Homo sapiens: one gene and its partner. The protein of the gene in region 2 purifies or fractionates together with the protein of the main gene of each other region. This does not show direct contact. Each region holds a gene or a part of one and is shown on either strand. Other genes may lie near its edges.

Region 1 (3,500 bases), on a different chromosome or scaffold from region 2:
GTGAGAAACTGGGAGTGGGATTCTGGTCATGTATTAGACATTTATCTTTTAAAGAAATGCCAAACTGCTTTCCAGTGTGGTGGCACTTTACACCCTCATTTAACTCCCACTAGCAAAAAAACGCAGGAGACTTGCAATTTCTCTACAACTTCACCAACCCTCGGTGGTGTCTGTCTTGTTGATGACAAGCATTCTCCTGGGTGTGTGGTAGTATCTGATTGTGGTTTTTATTTGCAGCTGCCTGATGTAGAATGATGTTGAGCATTTTTTTCCATGTGCTTATGTGGCATCCATATATCTATACATCTACATCTACCTTGGTAAGGAGTTTGTTCAAATCTTTTGCCCATTTTTTATATGTATGTATGTATTTTTATTTATTTTTGTAGAGATGCTCAGGCTGGTCTTGAACTCCTGGCCTCAAGCAATCCTCTTGCTTGGCCTCCCAAAGCACTGAGATTATAGGTGCTTCCCATTGTGTCCAGCCCTCTTGCCCATTTGAAAAACTGAGTTTTCTGTTTGTTTATGTTTTTGTTTGTTGTTTTTTTACAATTGCACTTTGAAAGCTCTTTGTGTCTTTGTGTATTCTGGACATCAGTCTAAGACTTGAAAATATTTTGTTTGCCTGTGGCTTGCACAGGAATGAACACCTGGCTTTATTGTGCATTGCTTTACTGCACTTCACAGATACTGTGTTTTTTCACAAATTGAGGGTTTGTGGTGACCCTGGTCAAGCAAGTATGTCGGCGCCATTTTCCCCGCAGTGTGTGCTCACTTCAATTGTCTGTGTAAGCAGCTTTTAGCAATAAAGCACTTTTAATTCAGACACATAGTTTTTAGACATAATGCTGTTGCACACGTCATGTAAACGTAACTTTTATAAGCACTGGGAAACCAGAAATTCATGTGACTTGTTTTACTGACATGTTTACTTTATTGTGGCTTTCTAAAACCAAACCTGCAGTATCTCTCATGTGTGCCTGTATTTTTATTTTCTTAATGGTGACTTTTGAAGAGCAAATATTTTCAATTTTGGTAAAGTCCAAACTATGATTTTTTTCTTTAATAGGCAGTGATTTTGGTGTCAGATCAAAGACAAGCTTTGTCTCACTAAAGATCACAGAGATTTCATTCTATGCTTGTTTCTAGAAGTGTTCTATGTTCAGCTTTTAAGTTTAGGTGTCAGATGGATTTGGGGCTAATTCTTCCGTGGCGAATGAAGTGATCCTGGGTAATCTTTGTACAGGTATGAAGAACTCAATCATTCTTTTTTCTTTTCCATGTGGATATCCAATTGTTCTAGTACCACTTGTTGAACTATAATTTCTCCCTATTTAATGATTTTAGTACCATTATTTAAAGTCAATTGACCATAAATGAAAGCTTTAACTTTGGACCTTTCTTCTGGTCCATTTCTCTATATCTGTCTCTGTCGGTGCCACACTGTTTTTATTACTGTAGCTTTATGTCTCTCTCTCTGTCAGCGCCACCTGTCTTTAGTGCTACAGCTTTATAGTAACATTTAAAGTCTGGTTGTGTAAGTTCTCCAATTTTATTTTTTCTCAAAATCATTTGGCTAGTACAGTAGCCTAGGTCTTTTGAATTTGCATATACATTTTAGGACCACCTTGTCATTTCTGCTAAAACAGAAGCCTGCTGGGGTTCAGCAGGGATTGTGGTAAATCTGTAGATAAGTTTTGGGGAAAATTGCCCTTTTAATAGTATTTTTTTCCAATCTATGAATGCTGTACACCTTTTCACTTAATAGAGCGTCTCTGACTTCTCTCAGTCATGGTGTGTAGCTTTCAGTGTACATATTTGCATAAGGTTTGTCAAATTTATTCTTTTTTTATTAGACTATGAAAGGAAGTTTTAAAAATATAACCCGGATTTTTCATTGCTGGTGGATAGAGATGTGCGAGCGTGTATTTTAATATGTGCCCCACATCCTTGTTAAGTGATTTAATTATCTTAACTAGGTCTTAAAACATACTTTTTAGGTTTCATTGTCTGCAAATAAACACAGTTTTATTTTGTATTCTCTGTGCCTTCATTTTCCCTGCTATGCTGGGCTGGCCAGAATGTGACTGTGATATCAGAAGTAGGAGGAAAGGGCGTCATCACCTGTGCCCAGCCTCCAAGAGAGGGTCACAAGCCTTTCACCAGTAAATGTCACGTCAGGTACACAGGGTGCTTTCCTATCATTCCTAGGTCACTGAGATTTGTTAAAAATCATGAATGGGAACTTGCTGTTAACAAACCCTTTTCTGCATTGATTGGCATGATTGCGTGGTTACCGTTCTCTATTGGACTAACGTGCTGAGCTGTAGTAATTGATTCCTAGGCCTTAAGCCACTGCTTACCCCTGGAGTGATATCACTTGGCCACAGTGCACATTCCTGCCCCGTGCTGCTCGATTTGGTTTCCCAAGGTCTTATCAGTGATCTCTGCCTGTGTTTCCTGAATGTACTGGCTTATGAATATCTGGTTTGGTGTCAGGTTGATAGTGGCATTGCTGAATGAGTTGGGAAGTGTTGCTTCCTTCTCTGTTTTCTGAAAGAGTCTGTGTGTAGGTTGTATTGTATTTTTTCTTTAAATCTTTGCTGGAATTCATGCATGAAGACTACAGGGCCTGGGATTTTTCTTCACTGGGAGATTTTAAATTAGTAGTTTAGTCTCTTGGCTGTTCTATGTCTATTTAGACTTTCTATGTCTTCTTGAGTTAGTTATAATAATTCATGTCACTTAACCGGAAAGGGAACTAACTTCCTTAAGTTAAAAATCATGTTTCAGGCCAGGTACAGTGACTCATGCTTGTAATCCCAGCACTTTCGGAGGCCAAGGCGGGCGGATCACCTGAGGCCAGAAGTTTGAGACCAGCCTGGCGTGTTAAAACCACATCTCTACTAAAAATACAAAAATTAGTCGGGCGTAGTGGCATACATCTGTGATCCCAGCTACTTGGGAGGCTGAGGTAGGCAAACTGTTTGAACCCAGGAGGTGGAGGCTACAATGAGCTGAGATTTCACCACTTCACTCCACCCTGGGCAACAGAGCGAGACTCTGTCTCAAAAAAAAAGATGCAAAAAGCACATTTCAACTTTGGAAGATGTATCGTGCAGTATAGAAATGTCCAGGAGACTCAGTTCCTTTCCTATCTTTGCACTAGGAAGTCCGTGGTGCATGACTGGTGTTTATGTTCACAAAGACACATAGACACACCCATGCACAGAGCCTCACACACAGACACACACACAGCAGAGTCCATGGGCTGCATCGGCCCTGAAGTAAAGGAGCATGGCTGAGAGGTCCCAACCACCGAGTGACCTTAGACATTGTCCCAGGCCTGGAGAAATGGAGCAGAGAGACAGGTGGTACCTGGAGAACTCCTTTGTCCATTTGCACGTATGGATCTTTCCTCACTGCTTGATGTTTTGAACTCTCTTCTTTGCGGTTATTAATGAGATACTCAAAGGTGGTCATCTTCTTGGCCTCTGGAA
Region 2 (3,500 bases):
GAGAGAGGCAAAGACAGAGCTGTTGAGCATTTCACACCCTGGAAGGCGTGTTAAGCAACTTGGCTCTAGCCTCCAAATCTGGTCGCCACGTGTCACAGCTGGGGTGGAATGTTTGGGGGTGAAGTTGAAAGGGTAAAAGTGATTCAGAGATGAGGCAATCCTCCTGAACGGCGTCTTTGGTATCTTGAGGCTGTTCTGCTTCAAAGCAGCTTAGGCCTCCGGGGGTGGGCATGAACTGAACGTCAAGGGACTGGGTGTGGTCTGAAACCTGGAAGTCTAGGGACTTGTGTGCATGGCACAACAGCAGGGATGCACTGTTCACACAGTGTCAATCTGCCCCTGGGACTGTGACAGCCTTGCCTGAGAGGACAGAAGTCTTGGGCCCCCCATTTAAAATTCCTAGTATTCTGCTTAGGAAAGCTGCTCTATGATGAAATGATAATAGGAATAAAAACAATGTACAAAAGGACACGTTGACTCTGGCTTTGAGAATAGGAATTCAACATTCAACTCTGGAGACAGAGTTCCTTGTGATGGGAGCGCCCATCACTGTCACTGAAAGAAGAGGAAGAAAGTGAGGGATCTGTGGAAGGCCGGGAAGGAAATCTTAAAGAGGTCACAGGGTTGCTGAATTTTCCAAGACCCAGGCATGGATTTCTCAGGGGGCCAGGTTACAGGAAGGTAGAGCTCCAGGTGGTGGTGGGTACTAACTCAATACTTCCTAGCAGGACAGGCAAGGTCTTGTTACAGGAAACTCCAAAGGACCATCCACATTCCTTTCTATGAGGGAATTTTGCTGTATCAAAGGCTGCTTGAAATAAGAGTCTGTTTACATAGAAAGGAGGGGAAAATTGTCTGGTCCTGCAGGCATTTGTTGAAACGGCATTGACTCTCACAGGATTTGATGAGCTGACAGAGTGAGGCTGGCCTCGTTTATAGAAGGCCAAGGTAGTAAAACAGAGAGTAAGCTGGGCTTGGAACTCTATCTCCAAGTCCAAACTATCCTTTGCTGTTTCAAAACCACAGAACCACAGGCATACTGCAAAATTTGAGCTTGGAACTCTTCAATCTGTAACATGGGTATCAGAATGAACATCAAATGTATCTTATGGGACAGTGTTTGTAGAAGAGCCTTGTAAAACAATACAGTATTATGTAGATACATGGTATCATTACTGCAGTATTGCATAATGATTATAACAAGTGGTGACTGTTGGCCAAGATGACTCTCTCCAGCTATAAAATGGCATCTCTCTGTAATACCATGAGGATGCAAACATAGCTTCAGTTCTAAGAAGCTAAGAAGGTTCTAAGAAACTTGTTCCCCTTAACAGAAAAAGAAAAAGAGCAAGGGGTCCTTTGCAGTCATTTGATTAGCAATCCCAGAGCTGGAATTGCCCCTTGGTTTGAGCTCTCCCGCTTCAGCAGTCCTGAGAATGGCTCACCGTCACCACCACGTAGAAGCACCAAATCACCGAGGTGAAATGAAAGACGACCAGCTGTCCAGATTCATTGAACTTGCTGTGTTTGACTTTGGAGAGATGAAGCCGTTTGCTGATTTTCTAAAGAATAAAGAAAACCCCTCATATTAATATACAAATGTATCCATATTGGGCAGGTTTCAAACTCTTGTATTCTCCCCACAGAAGGGTTGAACATCGTTAGAAGTTTGCAGCTGGCCATAATCCAAGTCATTTGGTGTAAGCCTACTGCGTGCATACAGTGCTTGGTCTAAGGCAAGCATTTTGAGAAAGTGGCAAGATGAATGTCTCTAGCCTATGTGTAAAGAAAATAACCCCAATTACTCAATGTGCCCCAGACCCATAAGGACACCATCTCCAGACAGCTTTCTCTCTGTGTAATAAATACTGCTGTCCCATGTGCTGATTAAAGGAGGCTGTGAACAGAAACCAAAGTGTGGTGAAGGAAGCCCAGGCAATAGACCCAACCAGTGCAAGCAAGTTGGAGGATGAATGGGTGCAGAGCTGCAGTTTCCTCCAAGGCCAGGTCCTCCACCCCAAGGCACCTCCCCAGCTTCTGATCTCAGAATCCAGACATGTCACTTACATCTAAAATGTACTCCTGAACCACAGCATGCAAGATGATGGTGATGAAGATGTAGAACAAGATTGTGACCAGGTCCTTAGGGCCATAGTGGTAGTGCACGGTCTCACTGTCTGTGGAGGTAATAAAAGTCCCATCAGCATCCCTGGGGGAAGGAAATACTCTGGGACCCAAAACTGAAATGAGATGGGAGGCGAAATGCGCCATCAAATGCTACCCGTTTGCTATAGCCTCAGACTCAGAAGAAGGTTTCTGCCCCAGAATCCTGCCCACCCTCTGGTCTTAGCACTTGGAAGCACCAATGGAGATGGCTAAGGAGAACCAAGTGCATGGCTGTATTGTCATAACAGTATCTCCTGAGTCTGTGCAGCAGAGCACAGTGGTTATAACAGAGCCAGGGTTAGAGACCACCAATCCCCATCACTGGCTCTATCACTCCCTAACTGTGTGACTGTGGATAAAGGACTAACCTCTTTGAGCCTCAGTTTCCTCCCCTGTAAAATGGGACTATAGTTATGCTTTCTCAAGAAAGCACCGCGTAAGGGCTAAATGTGGACTCAGAAGCTGGACTCTTCAGTTTGTATTGCAGCTCTGTCCTATGTGACCCAGGGGTATCTCCATGTGTGACTTTTCTGTACCTCAGTTTTCTCATCTGAAAAATGAGGACAACATTTCCTGCATAGTAAGTTTATTATGAGAATTAAATGAATAAATGCGAAGTGCTTAGAACAGTGTCTGGCACATAGTTAAGTGCTATATATGCACTTGCTATTATTTTTGTTGTTGGGCTAGTGCAAGGATCAAATGAGATAATTTGCTTACAACAGTACCAACAATTTACAGTAAGTCTGCAATAAATGGTGGCTTATTAAAATACAATTAAATAGTAATAAATTAGACAACATCCCAGGTATAGAAATCTTGTGAAACTCCGCCATTGCAGCCTGTGGACAGAGGAGAATCTGCATCCTTGCTCCAGTCAGTGGGCAGCAGGCTGCGGGGCTGTGAGCCTGGTGGCCGTGTGCCTGGGTCTGGGCTGCTCTCTGCAACCCCCACCTCCACCAGGCAAATGGCTGCTCTCCAGCTGTGCTGCATTCGCTCTGAGTCACACACACATGAGTCATCTCACTGCTGGGATGCATTTACCAGAAGGTAGCCAGGCTCAGTTTGTTTCAGGGTGGCCAGGGAACAAAGTCAAGCTGATTGGGTCACTCTGGGAGTCCACCCTAATCTCAGCCACCCTAGACTGGGAGAATGTAACGGTGGGCAGTGGTGAGGGGGTGGGAGGAGGTGGCGAGGACAGAGAGAACATGATCTTGGAAATCAGACAAACTTTCCTTTTTCCTCTCCCTCTTCCTTTCCACAAAGACCTATTCTGTGAGAGGCACTGGGCTAACTGTTGAAACATGGAGATAAAAGACACCACCCCCGGTTGG

What was found.
Region 1: the proteins of TRAM2 (region 2) and ZDHHC11 purify together in Homo sapiens (co-immunoprecipitation; one large-scale study listed by IntAct). This does not show direct contact.

What each region holds. Positions count from the first base shown.
Region 1 is NC_000005.10:833,987-837,486, forward strand, and holds part of ZDHHC11 (palmitoyltransferase ZDHHC11), read right to left. Parts: exon of another isoform or gene 3,495-3,500; coding exon 3,379-3,494; intron 1-3,378. UniProt on the Homo sapiens protein: Endoplasmic reticulum-localized palmitoyltransferase that could catalyze the addition of palmitate onto various protein substrates and be involved in a variety of cellular processes.
Region 2 is NC_000006.12:52,514,561-52,518,060, forward strand, and holds part of TRAM2 (translocating chain-associated membrane protein 2), read right to left. Parts: intron 2,178-3,500; coding exon 2,068-2,177; intron 1,563-2,067; coding exon 1,446-1,562; intron 1-1,445. UniProt on the Homo sapiens protein: Necessary for collagen type I synthesis. May couple the activity of the ER Ca(2+) pump SERCA2B with the activity of the translocon.